Linked DNA regions of Homo sapiens: region 1 is linked to region 2. Evidence: fine-mapped expression QTL. A gene starts in region 2. The other region holds a variant in brackets. All regions are shown on one strand. Distances are from middle to middle.

Evidence for each region. PIP is the estimated chance that this variant, and not a neighbour inherited with it, causes the effect.
Region 1: its variant is fine-mapped to the expression of CACNG3 in testis (GTEx, PIP above 0.99).

The regions. Positions count from the first base shown.
Region 1 is chr16:24,340,943-24,348,942 of GRCh38, forward strand. It overlaps CACNG3 (calcium voltage-gated channel auxiliary subunit gamma 3), which reads left to right. Exons shown (of 4, transcript NM_006539.4): 2 at 5,792-5,875. Among named protein-coding and RNA genes, the nearest start is that of CACNG3, 89 kb to the left of the region's middle. RefSeq lists an enhancer at 2,590-3,091. The variant C/T (reference allele first, on the strand shown) is at 4,270.
Region 2 is chr16:24,242,603-24,259,901 of GRCh38, forward strand. It overlaps CACNG3 (calcium voltage-gated channel auxiliary subunit gamma 3), which reads left to right and starts at 13,733. Exons shown (of 4, transcript NM_006539.4): 1 at 13,733-14,363. The coding sequence starts at 14,153. LINC02194 (long intergenic non-protein coding RNA 2194) reads left to right here. Exons shown (of 4, transcript NR_146569.1): 2 at 5,230-5,294; 3 at 9,331-9,529; 4 at 10,105-10,258. RefSeq lists enhancers at 3,708-4,907, 13,481-14,208.

The sequences.
Region 1 (8,000 bases), 94 kb after region 2:
GCTCCAATGCCTGAACTTAAAGCTGTGCTCTTCTCTGCATCCTGACTTCATCCTTGCAGTCTGCATGTTTTCACCATCTCTCTTGGTTCCATCTTCTACAGTGGGTGGGCAAGTCCAATCTCATTCTACTTTTCTAAGATTTACTGATATGGGAGGATACTCCTAAGAAAATATAAGTGAGAAGAACAGCACGATCCCAGTTTTGTAAAGCCATTTGTGTGCGAAAGCACAGGGGAAAAAAAGCCTGGAAGGAAATATACAAAAATGCTAAATAGTGGTTATTTCTGGGAGCCAGCAATATGCTACTTACATGAATGTCCAAGCTCACTTTGTGATGCATGTATGACATGGGTTGCCAGCAGATTCATTTTCAGTGTGGAGTCTTCCTTGGGGAAAATTCTTGATTCCTTTTCCTTCTATATTGCTTCTTAAAATCTCACCATGGCGCCAATGTGTCTCTTGTGATCCTAAAGTACCTACCAAAACCAACGGTAATAATAGCTGTAATATACTGAGTTCCTACCATACTCCAGGAACTGTACTAAGTGCTTTATGTCATTGCCTAATTAAAAGATTTATGTGTAAAGTGCTGAGAACAGCAACTGGCGTAATAACTGCTATTACTGCCTCAACTAATTCTCATGGCAACTCCATGAAGTTACTATTATTATCTTCATTCTGTAGAAGAAGGAACTGAGGTTTGGAGAGGTAATTTGCCATAGATACCACAACTAGTAAGTGGCTGAGTCAGGATTCATGCCTACGTGGGACACCAAAGACTGGGCTCTTACTAAATACATTTTGGTTCGGGGGTTGCAAACTCAAATATCTACAGGGCCAGGCAAGAATATAGAGCCAGGTGGGGACTTTGGCCAACTGGAGAGTTTACACCCAGTCTAAAGAGGGCTGCTGATGTCAGCTACGTCATCCAGGGATTCATTACTCCCGCATGGAAATGTGAGACAGAGGTCCCCATTTTTGAAGAGAAACTGCGAATCAGTTTTTAATGTGAAATATTCAGAATTTTAAATTGCAGCAGCATAGGCCAGGAGCGGTGGCTCACGCCTGTCATCCCAGCGCTTTGGGAGGCTGCAGCAGGCGGATCACCTGAGGTCAGGAGTTCAAGACCAGCCTGGCCAACATGGTGAAACCCTGTCTCTACTAAAAATACAAAAATCAGCCGGGCATGGTGGCACGCGCCTGTAATCCCAGCTACTCAGGAGGCTGAGGCAGGAGAATCACTTGAACCCAGGAGGTGGAGGTTGCAGTAAGCTAAGATTGCACCACTGCACTCCAGCCTGGGTGACAAAGCAAGACTCCATCTCAAAATAAAATAAAATAAAAATAAAATAAAATGCAGAAGCTTACTTAATTTTTAAAAATAAAATGTGCAAAAGAGTATTGCAGGTAAAACAAACACACACAGATTAAACCACAAAATGAAACAGTCTGCAACCCAGATTTGCGCCAGAAGCCAATATTATCTACTTTAGAAACACCAGCCTAGATTACATCTTCTATCCCAGGAAGGCCCAAACTCCCCTTTGCTTTCCATTTTTGCCTTCTTGGGACAGAAATCTTTAAACCGGGGACCAGCAAAATTGTTGTTAAACAGCCAGAGAGTAAATATTTTCAGCTTTGCTATCTCTGTGGCAAATACTGAACTCTGTTATAGTGGCATCAACATGTTTTATTTTCTTTTGTTCTCAAAATGGCTTCATGAGGAGCCTAATGTTATAATGAGGAAATTGAAGCAATATAAACAAATGGGCACGATTGTGTTTCAATAAAATTTTATTTTCCGACGCTGAAATCTGAATTTCACATTTTTTTGCAGGTCACAAATAATATTCTTTCGATTTTTTTTTCAACTATCTAAATATGCAAAAACCATTCTTGGCTCATGGGCTGTACAAACGTGGGTAGTAGTAAGCTGCTTTAGACCATTAAAAACTGGTGACTGCAGGCCAGGCGCAGTGGCTCACCCCTGTAATCCCAGCACTTCAGGAGGCTGAGGCAGGTGGATCAGCTGAGGCCAGGAGTTCAAGACCAGCCTGGACAATATGGCAAAACCCTTTCTCTACTAAAAATAAAAAATTAGCTGGGCATAGTGGTGCATGCCTGTAGTCCCAGCTACTTGGGAGGCTGAGGCAGGAGAATCGCTTGAACTGGGGAGGCGGAGGTTGCAGTGGGCTATGATTACACCATTGCACTCCAGCCTGGGTGACAAGAGCGAAACTCTGCCTAAAAAACAAACAAACAACAACAACAAAACTAGTGACTGCGTCTCCAGGAGCTACTGGCGTTTGCTGGTTCTAAGTCTTAGTTTCAAGCTGCCTGAAGTCACCATGAATAGGCCCATTTCACAAGCAGATGCCCACGTGTATGTAGTTCCGAATTCCCTCAGTAATTCTGACTGGTCTGTATTTAGTAAGGTTCCCATTCCATCTTCACCTGAACACTTTCTTCCTTTGAAATCTTTCGTGGAAAACAGCAAATAATGAGGAGTACGGAAATCAACTAACAATGGATGGTGTCACTACCAACACCCTTCCCCTGCCCAGGTGCCCCTGGGACATGCCATGGGGAAGCATAGTTAATGGAGAAGCCACTGGTCCAGTTCATTGCCAACATCAATAGTAGGGGGTAGGCTATAAAATGATCATGAAGCGACCAGGCAAAGAACTTAGTTCACAATACAGACTTGTTGAAGAGAGTGTAATTCATAATAGTAGTTAGGAACTTTGTCTTTGGGGTCAGCTGGTAAATGTCAAGCTGTGTCCTTGAGTAAATCGGTGACTTGGCTAAGCTTCAATTTCCTCCTCATATTAATAACATTGCCTCATTATAACATTAGGCATCTCAGGCCGGGCACAGTGGCTCACACCTGTAATCCCAGCACTTTGGGAGTCTGAGACGGGTAGATCAGGAGGTCAGGAGATCAAGACCATCCTGGCTAACACAGTGAAACCCCGTCTCTACTAGAAATACAAAAAATTAGCCAGGCATGGTGGCAGGCGCCTTTAATCCCAGCTACTCAGGCGGCTGAGGCAGGAGAATGGCGTGAGCAGAGCAAGCAGTGAGCCAAGATTGCGTCACTGCACTCCAGTCTGGGCGAGATTCCGTCTCAAAAAAATAATAAATAAATAACATTAGGCACCTCATAAAGTCATTTAGATAGCTAAAGAGGATAAAACACGTAAATGTGGCCAGGCGCAGTGGCTCACATCTGTAATCCCAGTGCTTTGGGAGGCTGAGGCGGGTGGTTCACCTGAGGTCAGGGGTTCAAGACCAGCCTGGCCAACATGGTGAAACCCTGTCTCTACTAAAAATACAAAAATTAGCCAGGCCTGGTGGTCGGGAGGCTGTGGCACAAGAATCGCTTGAACCTGGGAGGTGGAGGTTGCAGCGAGTTGAGATCGTGCCACTGCACTCCAACCTGGGCAATAGAGCAAGACTCAGTCTCAGAAAAAAAAAAAAAATGCATAAATGCTTAGAATGGTACCTGGTATATAGTAGGTGCACACGTGTGTTACTTATTATGATTTCTTATCCAGTCAACTGGAAGGGGATGGGGCTTAAAACCAAACAGGCATATATAAATGAAACTCTAAAATATGAACAAGCATGAATAAGGTCTTTTTTTCCCAATATCAGGGAAGAAATTATGGGTCTGTCTTTTTTCTAAGAATTTCCTTGAGTCTTCTCTCCTGAACCTCCTTCCTGGTTCTGAGTCTATTATTTGCCTGGTAAGCGGAGAATCAGAACCAAGGAGATGTTCTACATATCCCAAGGCATTTATTATGAAATGGCTCTGGCCTGGAGCCTACTTATAGTAGAAATTAAATATATGACACTCTTATTTTTATGAGATCATAATAGACATCATGATAGTAGCCATGGTAGCCATAATAATAACGGCTACTATTCATAGTGTAATGGTGAAACTACACAGCCTTTGAAACCTGGATCCAAAAATCAATTCCGTCACTCACCAGCTGTGACACCATCTCCTCTGTGATTTTCCATTGTCTCATTATCAAATGTTAATACTAATAGCCTCTACCTCCTGGGGTGGTAAACAAGGGTAAATGAGATAAGGGGTGTAAGGTTTCAGCTATGTGCCTGGCCAATTGGAAGCACTTAATAAGTGTCAGCCATTATTATGACATGCCTAGAGCTTTGCAAAAATTATCTCATGTTCATGTATAGCTTTATTTCATTCTTACAATAACAGTTCTGAAATACCAACGCAGCTCTGTCTGATTC[C/T]GAACCTTGTCCGTTTCCCACGACATCACAATGCCCGCCCCCCTGATTCCACTCCAGCTACACAGACAGGGAAAGGGACAAGAATGCATAATTTCTGGAAAATTTTTTGTCCTTTAAAAGAACTGGCAGAGCTATTAACTGCCCCCAGAGACTGGTTAACTGTCTAGTTAACTAACACCCAAAATGATGATTAAACATCCACACCTCAGCCGGGCAAGGTGGCTCACGCCTGTAATCCCAGCACATTGGGAGGCCGAGGCAGGTGGATCACCTGATGTCAGGAGTTCGAGATCAGCCTGGTCAACATGGTGAAACCCATCTCTCCTAAAAATACAAAAATTAGCCGGGCATGGTGGCAGGTGCCTGTAATCCCAGTTACTCGGGAGGCTGAGGCAGGATAATCTCTTGAACCCGGGAGGCAGAGGTTGCAGTGAGCCGAGATCGTGCCATTGCAATCCAAACTGGGCGACAAGAGAGAAACTCTGTCTCAAACAAAACAAAAAAGACAGCAAATGTGGACGGATGTTCAAGATGCATGTTCAGCAAATCTGAGGCTCCCAAAGGGGTGAACCTCATAGCGAGGGAGATGAGCTGTGATCCTTTGGGAGGGCAGAGAGGGAAAGGGAGTGTCCTGTGGTCAGATATGAACATCATTGGGGAGAGTGGACTATTCTGGAATGCCTGGACTCAGCTCTTGATTGGAATGCCGGTTCTATTTAGGTTGGTGCAAAAGTAATTGCACAACTGCACAATTACTTTTACATCAACCTAAATAGCTACTTACCTGAGTGATTTCAAGAAAAATTCTTAAGCCCTGTTTCCTCATTGGTAAAATGAGCGAAAAAAATGATGTACTTGAATTCTGCCTGCTTTTTCCTTCACTGACTGGAGGAGAGGGGAAAGATAAGATAGTCTTCATAATTAGTGTTTATGTTTCATGGTGTTTTTGCGCTTCTGAAGTGGATCCCAACATCATGCAAAATCTAAAAAGCAGCAAATTTCCATCTCCTGCTTTGTATTGTTTATCTTTTGCCTCTACTGGTCTCTTTTTTGTGCCCTAAAGAAACATGCTGTTGATGACTGATCCCGTTGGCTCATGCCTGTAATCCTAGCACTTTGGGAGGCTGAGGAAGGGAGGATCGCTTGTGGCCAGGAGTTTGAGGCCAGCCTGGGCAAGATAGTGAGACCTTTTGTTGTCACTATCAAAAAATGTTGAATTAGCCAGGCATAGTGGCACATGCCTATAGTCCCAGCTACTTGGGAGGCTGGGGTGAGAGGATCACTTGAGCCCAAGAGTTCAAGACTGCAGTGAGCCATGATTGCACCACTGCACTCCAGCCTGGGCCACAGAATGAGACCCTGTCTCTAATAAAAAATAAAGGTGCTCTTGGGCCTACCAGCCCAACAACCCTACAGCCCCCAACAACCAGAGAAAGGATCTGCACATAGCGGTGAGGACCCAGGCTGGCCCCCAGAGCTCTGTCTCCTCCCCCAGGCTCAGAACCCTTATCTGTTTCCACAGGGGCTTTCCGAGGCGTGTGCAAGAAAATCGATCACTTCCCTGAAGATGCTGACTACGAACAGGACACAGCCGAATATCTCCTGCGTAAGTTCCCCGGCTTCTCGGGTCTCTCTGGGAGGAAGGGATGGGCCTCTGCCATCACTCAGCTGCCTCTGAGTCGGAGCTTCCTCAGCATCTGTCCCTAGAAATAGATAAGTGCAAAGAAGCCCCATGTGCCAGTACACAGAGACACTCAAGTGGTTCTGAGAGCTAAGCCTCTTTAGTTTCAATGAATTAGAAACAGAAAGAAGAAGCAGGGGGTAGGGTGGGGGATGGTTCATGCCTGTAATCCCAGCACTCTGGGAGGCAGAGGCCAGAAAGGATCGCTTGAGCTCAGGAGGTCGAGATCAGCCTGGGCAATATAGCAAGAACCCATCTCTACAAAAAATTAAAAAATTAGCTGCATGTGGTGGCACACACCTGTAGTCCTAGCTACTCAGGAGGCTAAGGTGGGAGGATCATTTAAGCCCAGGGGATTGAGGCTGCAGTGAGCTATGATCATACCACTGCAGTCCAGCCTGGGTGACAGAGTGAGACCCTGTCTCTGAAAAGAAAGAGAAGGAGAAAGAAAAGGAGAATGAGAATGAGAAAGAGAAAGAGAAAGAGAAGGGAGGAAGGAAGGAAGGCAGGAAGGAAGACAGAAAAGTAGGTGAGTCAAAACTGAAAGGTTCTTTTTAGTCAGTTTAGGAGAAAAATCTAAGGAACTTTCTCTAACTTGAATGCAAGTTTTCACTTTCCCAGGAGGGTTGATTGGAGGTGCTAATGGCAGAGTGCTAATGGGTGATGTGAGGTGCTAATGGGTGAGGTCCCAAGGAGCAAGACCTAGGAGAATAAATACAAACCCAAGTTCACCTCTTCTTTGACTTCCCTCCAGTTTCAGTCCTACTGGGACAGAGCCAATGTCTCTGTAGGATTTTTCCAAAGTCAGTAACCTGGATATGACATGAACCGTCACAACTACAGCATGTAGGAGCCAAAAGAATGTGGTGGCTTTGAGCCAAGGCCTCTGGAATCTGGGCTTTGACCCTTGTTTGACTCTACTAGCTGGGTTGGACTTGAGGCAAGGGGCTTTACCTCTCTCTCTAGTTCCTACCTTTCTTCATTTTTTTCTGAAATGGAGATTATAATGTCATCCATCTGACAGGGTCACAAAAATTAGCCGGGGCCCAACACATAGTCAGGAGGCAATATGCATTAGCTCCCGTTTCTTGCATGGGATTAGCAATGCAAAATTCACTGCAGAGATGAGCCTTCCATTGGTCAAGGCACAGAGAGAACTTGATTTGGGATTTTAATGTAATTTCTTCAGCAAGAATTTGTGTTGGATTCACTCAAAATAGTGAGGCCAAGTGCAATGGCTCACACCTGTAATCTCAGCACTTTAGGAGGCCAAGGTGGGAGGATCACTTGAAGCCAGGAGTTCAAGACCAGTCTGGGCAACATATTAAGTCGCCAACTCTACAGAATTTTTTTTTTTTTAATTATCCAGGCATGGTAGTGCACACCCTTAGTCCCAGCTACTTGGGAGGCTGAGGTGGGAGGATTGCTTGAGCCCAGGAAGCTGAGGCTGCAGTGCCATTGCAGTGATCGTGCCATTGCATTGATTGTGCCATTGCGCTAATCAATAATATTGATTAGTGACTGGCTACACGGTGTGGAGGATAGTGTCAGATGCAGCATTATTAGGTTAATTTATGCTACTTGTGGCAAAAGCCAGCAATTTCAAGAGATGAGTACCCAGCTCAAAGAGGAGAGAAGGATGTGATCACTGTCTCATTGTAATGTCTCTCTGGGCCTGATAATTAAAAGGACTTGCGTTACTCAGATAAAAGTTGTTTTCTTTTCTCACCCCTCACATCAGCAGCTCAAAAAGATTCAGTGTGGAGAGCAAAATTAGCCACACTTAGAGATGTAGCTTAACCAAAATTTGGGAGATGACACAGATCACTTGCATCTTCTCAATAGAGAATGGCATTAGTCATCACCAGTGGGGTTTTACCAGAGTGCCCATAGATTTTCTTTGTTTTTCTTTTTCATGTTGATAAAACATGTTGACGTTTGCTCTGTCGGAGACTAAACAGAACTGTGACTTCTCTTCACAACTTGTATAGCTGATTTTAAGTTCTTCAGAGAGGCCCATAGCTTTTCTGACAAAGTATTTTTTTCTCGT
Region 2 (17,299 bases):
TTTGAACAAATAATTCATTCAACAAATAATTATCGAGCACCCACTATGTGTTATGTGCTATTATGAGTATAGGGCTAGTGCAGTGAATAAAATAGAAAAATTCTCTACCCTATGGAACTTTATGCTTTAGAGACTGAAAAAAATAAACAAGAAGAACCCAGGGTCTTCCAGTCATTTTCAATGTTAAGAACCTTACTTTAGTAATTAGAACTCATGCGCAGGCATTCAAAAGCCCCATCTGGAGGCAATAGAACGTCTGGCACTTGCTTCAGAATGATAGTTAATGGAGCATAGACATGACAAGATTGGCCATGAGTCAGTCACTGTTGCAGCCAGCAATGGGTACAAGGGCATCCATTCATTCTGCTTTTCTGCCCGTTTTGTATATGTTTGGGAATTTCTCATAACAAAAATATTTTTAAAGTCCAATTTAGTTGAAATCAATACTACAACCTCCCATTCCATTCAAAGCCTTTCCCTCTGTCCAGTTCTAGCCTGACCATCAGTGGAGAGCCTCCACTAGTGGGAATGAGAGGAGGGATGTCCTCTCATTCCCCTTCTTCTGTTGAAGGTTCCCCTGGGGCTGAAATGGGAGGGTGGCATCTGGGGTTTGGTTGAGGGTGAGAGGTGAAAGTCTTACTTAGATGGTGCAATCAGTGGTTCTATTTTGTTTTGTTGTTATTTTGTTTTTTGAGACAGAGTCTTGCTCTGTCACCCAGGCTGGAGTGCAGTGCCGTGATCTTGGCTCACTGCAACCTCCACCTCCTGAGTTCAAGCGATTCTCCTGCATCAGCCGCCCTAGTAGCTGAGATTACAGGTGTGTGCCACCATGCCCAGCTAATTTTTTTGTAGTTTTAGTAGAGACAGGGTTTCCCATGTTGGCCAGAATGGTCTCACAGCCCCAAGTGATCTGCCAGCCTCGGCCTCCCAAAGTGCTGGGATTACAGGTGTGAGCCACCGTGCCCAGCCTGTGGTTCTATTTTGGCTGCTGCTCTCTGACATCCATATGCTGTTCTCTTGTGGGCATGATCCCATGAAGAGAGCTTGAGCTCAGTTACTTTCTCAGCATCTACTTGGTACTCAGCACATCTCTGCTACACGAAATCCTGGAAGTGTAAGCTGCTTTGTGATGCTCTCTCTTCCTGCTCTGCAGTGGAAGGTGGTTCCAACCAACCCCTTGCTATCATAGTTCTACAGGTAGAATCCAGGCACCAGCCTCCATGTTCAGGTGTTCATGTGTGCCCCAAACACCAGACAACACTTGCCAATTTCTCCCCAGTAGTCCCACACAATGTTCTGCTGGAACCCACTGCTCTCTTCTAGGTACCAACCTAGAGTCTCCACAGGTTAGCAAGCATCAGGGAGTAGCATGTCAGTCTCCCCTAATCTCTCCAACAAGCTGATTGGGCCTCCTCTTACTTGCTTGGTGGGCGAGAGCTACTCCCTCTTCTATCATGGGGATGGAATAGGAAAAATCCAAAGTACCTTCCTCTCCTAGCCATTTCTCCCACCTCATTGAACTCCAGCCTTCAGTCTAGATCATTGAGATGGGAGTCATCAGAGCGAGGACCACAGAACACACTTGGCCATCTCTTGGTAAATGCTAGGGAGTCATGTGGCAGCTCTTTGGCTCTGGATGTGGGAATATTTCATGCTTATTGTTTTCACCTTTGAGGATTTGGCCAACATTCCAAGCCACTAGGAAGAGCCCCAAACTACATTCTATTTCACTTGATTTTAGGAAGGTTTCCAAAATTTTAGGAAGGTTTTAAGCTTCTTAGTTGTCTATTTGAAGTATTTATATCATCTCTCAATAAAGACACCTTTTGAATCTCTAACTGCCTCTTGGGTCATTTTGTTTTCCTCTTGTGTAAGTCTCAGGGAAACTGATTAACCACGTAATAGCCGTTTGTTATTCTGAAGGTGGCAGATTAAAGCAAATCTCATTAAGAGCCAGCTTCTTTGGCATCATACTTCTATTTATAGCTGCAGCTGACATTTATTGAACACCTAATACGTGCCAGGCACTGTGTTAAGCACTTATGTGTATTATCATATGTAATCCTCATTACACAAGAAGGAGGTTTCATTGACCAAAGATATAGCTTCTATTACTATCCATATTTTATTTATGAGGAAAAAGTGACACTGAAAGATTACATTTCTCAAGGTCACACAACAGATGATGCAATTAGGACTCTAACCCAAGCTTCTCTAGCCCCACATCCCATTTTCTCTACCAATACTATCTGCCATGCTCTAAGTGCAGGGTCTGATGCTTCCATAGATTCAAGTTTTTCTCCTAAAACCTGTTCTGGATTAGAGATGAACAAAGGTTCTTTCTCCTGATTCTTCTGGCAAAGTTTGTCCAAGACACAATTTGGGGGATCTTTATCCTGAGTCTGGTTTCTAAAGTCAAGTCTTGGGGAAATGGCCAATTTCACAACCTCCCCACCTCATACCTCAATCTAGGTGGTGAGAAGAAGAGCAAAGCCCTAGGGAAGCTTGGAGCCAAAGAGATCTGCTATTTTCTTGCCATCTTCCGGGTCTCTGCTACAATTTCTTGTCCCATGGAGCACAGACAAGGCACTGATGTACCACTAAGAAACAAAACAAAACAAAACAAAACAAAAATTTGACCACATCATTCCCCGCTTAAAACCTCTCAATGTTCCCCATAGTTTTCAGGAAACAGTCATATTCCTTAACATCCAAGACATCAATACAATATCTCTTGCCTGAGTTAATGCCACTGCCTCCTAATTCATCTCCAAGCCTTTATTCTTGCCTGTGCCATCCACTCTGTGGCTAGAGTGAAATCTCTGAACTGTAAATCAGATCTTGTTAACTCCCTTGCTTAAAATTGTGCAATGGCTTCACCCTGCAAAAGAATTAACACCCAAACTTCATTTAACCTGGCCAACTAGGGCTATACAGTCTGGCCACAGTCCACTTCCCTAACCTGATTTTCTACCATTTTTCCTCTTGTTTACCATTTGTCTACCACTTGACCATTTCTGTTTTTCAACAAGCTGCATTCATGATCCTTCCACTGGGGATACCTTTTTCTAGATCCTCTTAGAACTGACTCCTCCTTCACTATTGACTTTTCTCAACTCAGAAACCACCTCCCCAGAATGCCCCACTGACCATGCTACCTAAAGCAGTCCTTCTACTGCCAAGATTGGTCATATTGTATCACATTGCTTACGTTTATTTTTTGCAGCATTTTTCACTACCTGCATTTTTTTGTTTGTTTTGTTGGTTGGTTTCATGTTTACTGGCTATCTCCCTCACCTAAAATATAAGCTCTTTCAAAGCAGGGAATCTATCTGTCTTGCTCATTGCTGTACCCTTAGAACCTACAGCAGTGCTTAGCAAATAAGTAGATCTTAATAGATACTTGTTGAGTGACCTAACATGGCTAAAAGTCCCTGAATAATTTGGAATCTGTTTATCTGTAGTGCACAGTGAATAGCTATTATTCTTTACTTCCTACCATTTATCCAACCTTCTTCTGGTAACAGCACCCTCGATTTTCTCTAAAACATCATCCTTTATGCTACTGTCCATCCACATGGATTAAAATAAGGCCAGTTTTCCTTCCTATATGCCCAGAGATTGGAAAGGAAGCCCAAACCTAGAAATCAGTGAATTCCATTTTGTGTCCATTATGATTGGTTCAGGTGGGTATGAACTAAATGAGTCAATGAGAAAGCAGCCCCAAGACATTTACTGTAACTGTTGGTGGAGAGATGTCCTCTTTCTCCTAGGATTGCTCAGCTGGTAAGATGCAAGCCAGGAGCTCTTGGTGCTTGAGAAGACAGCCTGCTAAGTGCAGAGGGGGGAGGTCTGAGATGGAGAGAGACGGACCCCAGAAGCTATAGATATCTACCTTTGGACTTTTAAGTTACATATATTAATTGATTACTTCTGTTTGTCTTATATACTTTAAGTTGGATTTCTGTTAACTGTAACTAGAAGCTTATGACCAATAGGCTACCTCTCTAATTTCATGTCTCCTTGCCTGAATAAATTAGGAATTGTGCTCACCTGCTAAACTTGAAAAGGGGTGAAATACGTGAAAGAGTCTGTTTTCATCATGTAATGAGAATTGTTGAGATAAAAGCTTTTGGCCTGTAGTAGTAGCGCCATAATGCTATCAAGGACTCTGGCTTCTTTCAGTATATCTCTGTTGCCAAGGCTGGAGTGCAATGATATGGGATTATAGCTGACTGCAGCCTCCATGTCCAGGGCTCCAGTGATCTTCCCACCTTGGCCTCCCAAGTAATCAGGATTACAGACATACTCCAGCATACCTGGCAAAAAAAAAAAAAAGAAAACTTTTAGAGATGAGAGGGGATATTGCTATGTTGCTCAGGATGTACTCCTGGGCTCAAGTGAGCCTCCCACCTCAGCCTCCTGAATAGTTGGCATTACAAGCATGAGCCACCACACCTGGATCAGGCTTCTTCTGTTTTATTTTCAGGTATCCTAAACATGTGCTTGTTACCTTATGCAACAACATGGCTGATCTGACTCCACCATTAAGTCCTAGTTCCGGGTAGGAAGAAAGCCAAGAGCAAAAGGTGTCACCTACGTGCTAGCAAAGTCTGTCCAAAAACCTGCTGGGAGGAGATTTTACAGAAAACCCACAGAACAAGTTTGGTTTTCCCTTTCTTAAATTTTGGTAAAATATATATAATATTTGCCATTGTAAATGTTTGTAAGCATACAATTCAGTGGCATTAATCACATTCACAAGGTTATGCAATCATCACCTCTATTTCTAAAATTGTTTCATATATCTAACAAAAATTCTGTAACTATTAAGCAATAACTCCTCATTCCTGTCTCCTCTCAGCCCCTGATAAACTCTAATCTACTGTCTGTCTCTGTGCACTTGCCTGTTTACGTACCTCATATAAATGGAATCATGCCATATTTGTCCTTTTGCATCGGGCTTATTTTGCTTAGCACAATGTCTTCAAGATTCATCCATGTTGTGACATGTATCTGAACTTCACTCTTTTTATGGCTGAATAATATTCCACTCTATGTATATACCACATTATGTTTATCCATTTGTCTGTTGACGAATACTTGGGTTGTTCTCACCTTTTAGCCATTATCTACACTGCAATTTTTGATTACATTGTATCAGTCAGAATTTTATGACAAAACCATCCTACTCTGTGAGGAAAACTGAACAATGTAACTTTATTTCAGCTAGAGAGAGTGTCCCCAGTCACAATTGGAGTCTTATGTAAGAAGAAATAAGGAAAGCCTACTGGGTAAGTAACTAGAAGATTCTGTAACAATCCACTTTTTTTTGCCAGCAAATATCATTATTTGAAAAATATATATTTAGAGGGTACAAATGCAGTTTTCTTTCATGCGTATATTGCATAGGGGTGAAGTAGTGTACCCATCACCCAAATAGTAGTGTACCCATCACCCAAATAGTAAATATTGTACCCAATAGGTAATTTTTTAGCCCTCACCCCCCTCCTACCCTCTTTTGGAGTCTCCAAAGTCTATTTTTTCTACTTTGTATGTCCATATGTACGCATTGTTTAACTCCTACTTGTAAGTGAGAACATGTAGCATTAGGCTTTCTGTTTCTGAGTTATTTTAGTGAGGGTAATGACCTCCAATTTTATCCATATTGCTGCAAAAGACATAATTTCATTCTTTTTTGTGGATGCATAGTATTCTATGGCATATATATATATATATATATATATATATATACACACACACACACACATATATATATCACGTTTTCCTTATCCAATCCTCCATTAATGGACACTTTGGTTTACTTCACATTTTTGTATTGTGAATAGTGCTGCAAAAAACACACAAGTGTGGGTATCTTTTTGATATAATTATTTATTTCCCTTTGAGTATATACCCAGTATACCCAGTAGTGGGATTGCTGATTGAACAGTAGAATAGTAGTCCTATTTTTAGCTCTTTAAGAAATCTTTTTTTCTTTTCTTTTTTTTTTTTTTTTTAAGACAGAGTCTTGCTCTGTCATCCAGGCTGGGGTGCAGTATCGCAATCTCAGCTCACTGCAGCCTCTCTGCCTTCTGAGTTCAAGTGATTCTCTTGCCTCAGCATCCCAAGAAGCCGGCACTACAAGCACATGCCACCACACCTGGATAATTTTTGTATTTTTAGTAGAGATGGGGCTTCACCATGTTGGCCAGGCTGGTCTCAAACTCCTGACCTCAAGTGATCCACATGCCTCGGCCTCCCAAAGTGCTGGGATTATAGGCGTGAGCCACTGCGCCCAGCCGAGATATTTTTATACTGTTTTCCATAGAGGCTGTACTAATTTACATTCCCACCAACAGTATGTAAGCATTTCCTTTCCTCTGCATCCTCACCAACATCTGTTATTTTTTGACTTTTTAATAATAGCCATTCTAACTGGAAAAAGATGATACCCCATTGTGGTTTTAATTTGCTTTTCTCTGATAATTAGTCAGAAAATGTCATTCTATACATAGAATACATTTATCTTTACCCAAAGGACATCACCCCCAAAGTCTCATCCACGTAAAAGGTAAGATTTCTGGGCAGCTTGCAGCCCTCTACAGCAGGTTTGGGTGTGTCCTCTCTTGGTCTAAACTAAAAGACAATTTACTTGCTTCCAGCACATCCATCATTTAATTGTGCAGAAGGAGCCACATAATAAAAAAAAAACTCCTTTTAAAAGCAGAGACTAAAGTACACACAGCAGTCACACATGTATAGAAGTGATCAACTGAGCAAGAATAATATTTGTCTTTCCTAAGAATGGAAGACTTTCCTGGCTGGCAAATCTGTTCCCTTTTCAGAGAGAAACTTCCTTATTCATTACTTTTCATCACCCTACTCTCTGCCCCCTGGAAGGTTCTTCTGTGTCCATCTCTCTCCCTAGATTCATCTGAGGTGGAATTGGAAAGGACAAGCTTCTTGTTGGGCTCAAGGATCTTTTAGGAGTTTAGCTGTTTAGGGATTTAATAGTCTCAGGTTGCTATGTATCAAGCTTGGGAACTGTTTGGGAATGTAGTTCCTTACTATTCCTCCTTGTTGTCTTAGGTAGCATTCCCTAGAAGCAGAGCCTAAGGCAGACATTTGGATGCAAAAGACTTATTGAGAAAGTAACCTTTAGGAAAAACCCCAAGGGAGTATGGGAACAAGCATAAGAAAAGGCAATGATTCTCCAGTTGTGGTTTCCTAAAGAGCAGTATTAATACCTCTTGAGAACTTGCTGAAAATGAACATCTTCAAGCACCACCCACCTTGGAAACTTTGAGGGTGGAGCCCAATAATGTCTCATTCAACAAGCCTTCTAAGCGACTCTAATGCACACTATGGTTTGGCAACCATAGAGGATGGAGATGAAGCCCAACGAGGATGTGGTAGTCTTGGCCTGATCATCGGAAGACTCTAGAGCATAAATTGTATCTCAGAGTTGTCCCTGCCTCTGGGAAGAGGCCAGACTTTTGCACCCTTGTATCTGACTGCAGGGAGAAGGGCTCTAATTCCTCGGGAGAGGCAGCTCCCATCAGCTGAGACCAATTATCCCTGGAAGGGGCAGCTGTGGGTTAGAAAGGTCAGGGCTAGAGGTGTATAAATGAATCAATTCAGTAAAGAGAATCTGAAGAGTGGTGTACCAACAACAACATCTTCTTCTTCTTCTTCTTCTTCTTCTTCTTCTTCTTCTTCTTCTTCTTCTTCTTCTTCTTCTTCTTCTTCCTCTTCTTCTCCTTCTTCTTCTTTTTCCTCCTCCTTCTCCTCCTCCTCCTCCTCCTCCTCTTCTTCTTTGAGACAGGGTCTCACTCTATTGCCCAGGCTGGAGTGCAGTGGCACCATCATGGCTCACTGCAGTCTTGAACTCCCAGGCTCAAAGGACTCTCCTGCCTCAGTCTCTTGAGCGGCTTGGATTACAGGTGTTCACTACCATGCCTGGCTAATTCTAATTTTATTTATTTATTTATTTATTTTTGGAGAGACAAGGTCTCACTATGTTGCCCAGGCTGGTCTCAAACTCCTGGCCTTAAGTGATTCTCCCACCTCAGCCTAGCAAAGTGCTGGGATTACAAGCACAAGCCACTGCATCTGGCCTGCAATTGCTCTTATTGGTCCAATTGTCTCTGTCCTCTTCATGAGACTAAGAGTTTCAAGTGATCAAGAGCAATCTCTTTCCTGCTTGTTATTTGCTCATCAGTGCCTGTCACAGGTGTAAATCTTAATAATTACTTATGCAGTTAGTTGATTAAACAAATACTATTTAAATGCCTACTATATCCTGAGCACTATTCTAGGGTCTGATAATTTAGATTTGAACAAGACAATGCACCTGTTCTCATGGAGTTATTTGGCTTTAGTTGGGAAGATGACAATAAGCACAAAAGCATATATGTACATATATACAGTATAATGTCAGATATTGATAAATGCTATGAAGAAAAAGCAGAGTGAGAGTATAGAGAGAAGTATGGGGTGTTATTTTTAGATAGAGCAGTTAAAGAATTCTCTAAGAAGGTGACATTTGAGCTGAGGTATGAATGAAGTGAGGGATTGAACCATGACAATATCTAGTGGCAGCAATTTGTGTGTAAATTCAAAATTATTTTAAAATAAATGTTTCTTACATATAAAGTATATTCAGGGAAGAGCATTCTCAGCACAGGAAATCAATGGGTGAGTCACAGGAAACACCTGGCATTTCTGTATCAATAAAATAGGAGGTAGTTGGAGGAGAAGGACAGGTGGCACAGTGCTTACTGTTTTTATTTATTTTTGAATTAACTTTAAACTTTTATCAAAACATACATGTATAAGATTTTTAAAATCAGATAGAAGTGGCTGTAGTGAAAAACAACTGTTCTGGTCCCATCCTGTTCATTCTCATTACTCATTTCATTTTATTTTAGTTCATTTCACCTCAACCTCTCTTCTTCTCTTCTCCAAATATAGATTAGAATATTTTTATTTTTATATTGGTTATCTTTAATTTTCAATGACATACCAGATACTCTAGATCTCCTTTTATCAACTCTAGAAGTATATCTTGTCTATTCTCTTTGTATAATAATATCAGGATGTTACATCCTACCATTCCCCTCCTTCTACCTCCAATTTCTATCACTGTCTAGAGAGTAGAAACATAACTTCATGTAATTGGGTTCAAAGAGAGAATAGAGAAAGAAGAGAGAATAGAGAATAGAGAAAGAGAGAGAATACTGAAAGAAGGTTAACAAGACTGAAGTTGAAATAATGATGTGTGAATGTTTTGTAAGCATATTTGGTTTTTAATGCTTTTTTCTATAGGTTGAATCTAAAAGTAGAAAACTCATAACAAGGCTATGTGTGAACATCAAGAGAGAATTCAAGATGGCGGGGATGACACTCTTTAGTCCATGTGTGCCTGGTTTTCATCATCTCCTTGACTTACACACATGTGGGTGCCTTTACCTCTGAAGACTTTTTCTCTTCTAACTGATGATGCTCCATTCTCTTCTGACAAAAGGTAAAGCTGGTTTGGTACCACTGACACCCAGGTTAGTTGGGGTCCAATATCTTCTAAGCCCCATATCCTGCCATGTTGTCTTCTCCTTCGTGGTCACATTTTACTGCTGATCCCATGGACATCACTGGAGTGGTGCCACAAGTAGATCACATAGACTTTTCACAGAAGTCTTCTGAGGTATCACAGAATTTCCCCCTTTTCTAAGAACTATCCTCCCACAACTCACAGGGGCTGGTCCTGATGGCTGCGTTTATAGTACATGACCCTGAATCGTTGGCCACAGCTGCATGGACCAGGAAGTGGCAAGCAACATAAGCTAGGCTGATCAGGTTGTCTCTCCCGGAAATTTTGAATTAGGACTAAAACTTCCCAGTTTAGTCTGGGTGGGTTTCTTAAATAGAGATGACATAAGAACTCAAAATCTAGCTTCTATTTCAAGGATCAAAGAATAGATGAAGCAAAACAATTTTTCAACTAAAAATATGAAAAGAGGCAGAGATGCAAAATGAAGTGACTGTCAAGACTCCTGATGGCATTTTTTTTTTTTTTTTTTTTTTTTTTTTTGCTGGTTCCAGCTCCCTGCCAAGGCCTGATTGAACCTCTGCCCTGTGGTTCCTTGAAACATCGTCATATTCTTGTACTAAATTCCCCATTTTCTTAAGCTAGCTCTGGTAAGTTTTTGCCATTTACAGTCAAAGTGAACTCACTAATAAAATATTCCCAACTGCATAATCTTCTCCCTGGGGGATGGGAATCATATCTTTGTATTCTCCAAGGTGCTGAGCACATAGGGGAATGCCTTGCACATAGTAGGCACTCGAAAAGCATCTGTTGAATTGAAGCAACTGAGAGTACTCCTTCCTAAATGACACAACCATTTACAGGGATCACTGACCCCTCCAGATGTTATGAGAAGATGGACAGGAAAAAGCATAAATAGATACACCGTGCCAACTACTTCACTAGCTGACAGCCCAATAGAAGAAAACAAAAGTCTTAATAAGAGAATCAGACATCAGTTGCAAGATGTCTGAATGTCTCCTAGTCTTCTGCCAGATAAGTGGGATCAGAAAGGGCTATTAGTAGACAAGAGTCTAGCTCCAGCCCGCCCTGGAGAGAGCTCTGAATCTCTTGGGTCCCTCATTGATCTGTTGAAAGAGCCCTCTAGTGGTGAAAATGAGGAACGATCTCTAGCCTTACAAGCAGATTCTACGCGCCCAGGTCCACACACCTACACATTCAATTGAATGAAAGGATGAGGTCACCCCCTAGTAAGTTGGGAGGCATGATAGGGAACAAACTGCGGCCTCCCTGCCTCCACACTCCCACTCCGTTCAGTTGTTCTGACTTGCTCCACATGCAGGCTCGGGACTTCCCACAGTGATCAGGTTGGCCCTGGACAGCAATTCCAAAGAATGAGCCTGCCTCACCAAGTCAGAGGCTCAGGACAAAGCTCCAGTTTTATCACATGTATCCCTTTCTCTTATTCAGCAAAACTGGGTGCATCCTGACCCATAATTGTTACCTTCATCTACCTGAGCTCCTGATCCTTTTCCCCCAACTATCCTTCTGCTAGGCTCCTGGGCACCATACTCTGCTTGTCTGCGCTTCTGTTGTAGAGCTAAGTGGGTGGAGATGAAGATGCTGCTGTTCCACTGTGGGTCTGGTAAATGGAGAGATTGGGGCATACTGTCCCTTAGCCCGAAGCTCACTCACCTTTCATCAACATGGTCCTTCTTTGAAAGAAGACCTTTCTCACTTCTATCCAAGCAAGAGAAGAATCAAACAGATCCTGAAATGACTGCTTTGATCATTAGTAATTATTTCATCTTATTTACCTTTCTGAGAGTGGGGAGAGAAATTTTTGCTAACTGAATTAATCCCTCCCAAGAAATACCAACCTCACCTCCATGTTACATATGGCTTTCCCTTAAAAAAGAAAGGTAATAACAATCAAGGCAGGATATTTTTATTAAGATGCAAATTTTCATTTCAGGAAAGAAAATGACACTAAGAAACTTGTAGGGGCCCTCGTGTATCCTCTCCCTACTATCTTCTGTCATTCTTCTGGAGTACGGCTGTGGTGCTGGCCCCAAGTTTATCCATTCCATTGTGGATTATGTGGCAAGATTTCAGTATTTCTACCTCCTGTCCATAAATCAGTGTTTTTGAACCACGACACATGCATATGCAACTAAATGCTCATAGGTATACACACCTACATATTCAAATCTATACTATACCTACACACGTGCATGCATACACATACATGTGCAAATATGTATGCATATGCATAGCAAAAATGCTAGGCATTTGCAGCAAATATGTTCACATGGTCCATAACACTGTCTGCAGGTACAAACATACATTTACATACTTGCTTTACTTCTATGACGGATTCACAGGCATTCAGAATTTATAACTAAACTGAACATAGCACAGGTGAGCATTCAAACACAATCACTCCACAGCTATATATTCAAACTTCCTCCTGCACATGAGTATTTATCTAACACCAAGAATAAAGTCTTCAGTCTTAACACCAAAATGAAAGTAGCAAAGTCACCAAGAAGTTGTGAGCTGCATTTGCGAACCCTTCAATATATTCCTGCTACCCAGTCACCTGAATAGAAGTTCCCAGGCAGCCAGAGATGGCACCAGGGGAGTATGTTTGTCTGCGATTACCTCCCGTTATATTTCTGTCCAGCTAAATAACATTCAAACATGACAGTTGGTTGCGGACACATCTCAGGAACTGTGGAAACAACCCAAGCAACCTCATTTCCAACTATCTGACCTCTGGATATCAGTCCCAGGATGCCATAAGAAAAAAAATAATAAGGGCATTTCTGTGGGCTGTTTCTAGTCAACTCGGTGTGTGCCCATGCATATGCCGGAATACATAGTAATAAAAAGCTGGTTAAATGCTGGTCCTTTGCAATACTGGCTATTTCCAAGGAAGAGAGCTTTCAGGTGTGCAATGCCATTTGCCCTTTGGACTAACAAGCAAAGCAGACCTAACTTCACCTGCTTCATGGTCTCACTTAGATAACAATGTTAACAAATGATATCTCAGAGACCTTTGAACAAAATCTGACATTTTCAGTGACTCTCCCACCATGAATCCATCACCCCCTTCGATGTAGATATGTTAAAATGTATAAAAGGCATATTCAAAGGCCAAAATCTTATAGTCTTTTGCCCAAGGTCCCTAATATGTGTATGACAGAGTCTATGTATATTTAGCTTCTTCCATCTTTTAGGAATACATGATCATGTATATATGAACAGTTCCGGGTCTGATCTGAGCGGGTTGTCTTCGGTGTAAACCAGAGCTCCAGAGAAAGGAGGGTAGACATATTGGTTTGTTTGCTGGGGAACCAAATTGAGACAGACTCTACACAGATGTGATTGTGACAACACTTTTTGCCCGCCTAAGCGAGCCATAGAGCCGTCTCCAGAGCTGCCGGTGCCTTTAAGAAGACTCGGTCTTTCGGGTCTTCTTTTTCCCCAATGGGCTCCAGTGGTGCCCGCAGCAAAAGGCAAACTTGCCTGGCTCATGGGGTGAAAGGGAGGATTGAAGAATGCCGCGTTGGGTGGGTGCTGAGGGAGCGCCAGAGTGCGCTACGGGCTTCGCTCCCCTTCCCCTTTCCTTAACCCTTCCTAGAGCGGAGGAACCGGGTCGTGCTGCAGCGCCCAGGAGCCAGGGCGCTGACTGTCCTCGGCTCCAGAAACTTTGCGCGGAGAGTGGGCTTGACTGGGCAGAGCCGAGCCGGCTGGCTGACCCGGGAAGGAACGGGGGAAGGGCGGGGTGAGGGAAGAAAGACCCTTTAGCACCCCGGGTTTCTAGCCCGGGCGGCGGTGTGCAGCTGCATGAGGGAGCTGTCCCTTCGGCACCACGGACCTTAAAGCCTAGGCGTTAAGACGACGGAGGCGGGGCAACAGGCGGGGAGCTGTCCCTTCAGCACCACGGACCTTGGCGCCCCCAGGGAAACCAGCCGGCCCCCGCCCCAGGACTCTGTCTTTTCTCCAGTTTGAGCGGGGGTGTCGGGAGCAGGCGGAGAGCTTTCCTGCGAGGCTGTGGAAGCAGTGAACACTCTTCTCAGCGGCTCGCCTCCCAGCAGTGCTATTTTTTGCCATCCGCCCTCACCCCCAGCACACGCGCTCGCACACACACGCACGCACGCACACACACACACACACACACTCACACAGAGACCTCTCTGGGTTTCTTTGCCTTGAGTCTCCCGGGGCTGTGAGAAGCCAGGCGCATCTCAAACCGAGCTGGCAGCTCCAGGCTCCGGAGCCATGCCCTGCACGGACCCTCGTCTTTACCACGCTCCTGAGGAATGAAAGGAACCCAGGGACCCTCAGAAGGCAGCAGTGATGCGGACCAACCCCCCGGAGCCTGCACCCTTCCGAGGGCCATAGGCGACCCAGGGAACTGGAGAGAGCTCCAGAAAGGAAATCCCAGCTTTCCCAAAGTCCCTGTGGATGCTGACAAAAGGAGACCTGAATTTTTGGAAGAGCCTGTACTAGGTTACCCGGCTGCAGAGTGATTTTCCCCTCCGGCACTGACTCTCCCCCTCCAACCCCCAGCCGTCCAGAGTACCATGAAGAATTATGAGGATGTGTGACAGAGGTATCCAGATGTTGATCACCACTGTAGGAGCCTTTGCCGCTTTTAGTTTAATGACCATTGCAGTGGGCACGGACTACTGGTTATATTCCAGAGGTGTGTGCAGGACTAAATCTACAAGTGATAATGAAACCAGCAGGAAGAATGAAGAAGTAATGACCCATTCGGGGCTGTGGAGGACCTGCTGCCTAGAAGGTATTTACAATTTCCTCTCAATAGCTCTGAATAATCCAGTTCTGATATTCTGGTGGGTGTTTGGAGGAGATGGAAATGGTGATAAGGAAAGAAGAGAAGTTCAAATTATTGCTGAGAATGTGCAGGTGCCCAGACTCTGTTAACAGCAAGACTGACGCCATGTGGGTTAAAGGGGTTGGGTCTTGTTGATTGTTTTTAGTATAAGCTTCATGAGATGAGATTTTTGTCACACTCTAGGCAGCTTCTGCAGTTTAGAAAAGTCTTCAAATCCAAAATCCCTAGGCATATTGTCAACTGCTTGGATCTCTGGCTTGAGATGGGGTCTTTAACCCTGCTTAAATTGGATTTCGAAGGGAGGGGGAGGGAAGGGAGGAGAAGGGACAAGAGGAAAGAAGTGAGGGGGGAGAGAGAGAGAGAGAGAGAGAGAGAGAGAGAGAGAGAGAGAGAGAGAGAGAGAGAGAGATCCTGACCCGGTCTGGCACATTCTGAGCTATTTCATTATTTCTCAACATAGACTTATCAGTTTCTCCTGAGTTTGCTCTAACTAGATATTGTCATGAACTTCCACTGCCAATCAGTAACAGGGTAACATATGTAAACCCCTACTCCCACCCACACCCTATGCACACATTTTAAGAAAAAATCCTTATTGATACATGTTTTATTAGTTTGGATCACAACAAAACTGAAGTCTTGGTATTTTGTATCCACCTGTCTTCATTCCTAAATCATTCCCAAACCCCTAAAAAGGTATTTCCATGACATTTACAAAAGACTGATTCTCCAAGAATTGCAGTTCGTCATTTCTAGTTCTAAAAATTAGGGAGTAGTTATAACTTATAATGAAGAAGAAAGAGCAATTTAAAAATATAAAGCCCTTTTGTAGCCTATCACACTATTAAACTTGCTTTCACCACACCAGAAGTCACTCTCAGCACCAGTAGGCAATGCTTGGATATCACTGGGAGTAAATAGAAAGATAAGGAAGAAAATCAAAGCTCTTTGGAGCCTATGTGCCTGAGGGAAGTCACTGGATTAGAGGGGCAGTAGGGGTTTTCTTAGGCTTCCGAGAAATCTGTGAAGCTTGTCACAGTGGTGGGCAAGGAAATCTGCGTTTCCTGTGTGGTCCCCTCCCCTGCTTGCCATTGGTTCTTCACACTGCATTTTCACTGGCTGGCATTTGTCAGGGCTTCTTGAGAACTTGCATTTATGTAAATCGCTTGGGAAATCATGCTATGACATCACTTGCCAGTGTAATATTGCATCATTCTCTGGCCTTTTTCCCATGTCCTGACACTTTGAACAACTGCTCTCCTGACCGTAGCGCTACTACAATTGATTCTGTTTCTAACACAAATTTGCAACTGGTGGGAAGCCCAGGTAGGAAAGGGCTACCTTTAATGCAGCAAGGATCATGTGAAGTCAGAAGACCTGGGTAATGCTGCAAAGTATCGCTGTGGCCTTGGTTAAGACATTTACCCTCTCCAACTCTCAGTTTATTCATCTGGGAAATGATACGTTTGGATTAGGTGGTCTTGAATTAACATTATCTAAAGCTTATACTGTATTCAATATACTGACAGAAATTCTAGAATAATTATTTCCTAAACAATGACAAAAGTTGGATATTTGTGAGCATTTGTGATTGGGTATGGTGAAGTCATTTACCTCAGGGAAATTCCATATTTCCCTTTCTTATATTGGCTATAAGGAATTGAATTATCTTTTGTAAAACTGATTTGGTGGATGTTGCGATATCTACATGGTTCTAGAGATGGCATAGAAGTTCTAAGGTTCCTCCAAGCCAAAAATGGCACATATGTATACAGTGCTTTAGCCATTTCCAATTCTTCTGCCTCTGGGAATCAAACCTGAGAATGCACAATTAAAAATGAAGTTTGACGTTCCTCATTATGATCTATGAAAAAAATATATATCTATAAGAGCAGAGGTAGGACCTAAAATTTCTAAACACTTGCTAAGAATTTCTCAACTGATGATTTCTCTTTTTTCCAACATCAAGTCCTACACCCACAGTTTGTACAAGGAATTGAAACCCCAGCCAGGCATTCTGTAGGCTTAGTGGGAGAAGTGAGAAATTGAATCAAGAAGGAATTGGATGAATTGAAGACATAACCTTGGGCAGGTGAATTCTATTGAGAAAATGTGTTGCAGTCCCCATACAACTTGGCCTGGCTTTTTTTGTTGTTGTTCACTTTTTTGAAGTATTAAATACAGTAAGATGCACAAATCACAATGAATCACAATAAAATATTAGCTATGGCTGCACCCATGTAATTAACACCTAGGTGGGTCCTGGCTGAAATTTGAAGCCAAGATGTGTACTAAACACATCAAGTGTTTGGGGAATTTGCAGAAGCCTCTGATTTCTGCATGGGAAGTCACATGCAGTTGGTAGCATCCATCCCAGGCATTTCCATCCTTTGCTAGAATGAAGATGAACAGTCCTTTCCCATTCAGTATTTCTTACCTACACCTGAGCCTCAAAATCCTCATTTTCTGGTCCTTTAAGTGTCAAATGAAAACTGGGGGTTTTCGTAGCTCCATTTTCTTAGAGGTCAAATTAGAAATGTTTGTTCTTCTGTGCTTTTTTAAAGAGCCATGAGACAATGTGATTATTTTATCCAAAAGAAGAGAATGCCAAGGAGAACATGACAGCTGTCTGCAAATATCTGAAGGGCTGTCATATGAAAGAGAGATTTGAGATGTTCTGTGTGGCCTCAAGGAGGTAGAAGTAGGAGCTAGAGGAAACCAGGTTTTACCTCAATATAAATAACTATCCAATGTGGAATGGGAAGCTTTGGCAGGTGATGGGTCTTCCAACACCAAAAATATTCAAGAATAAGCAAACTACATCGTTTCCCAACTTTGCTGGTCATCAGATTCTCATGAGGAACTTTTAAAAAATTAGATTA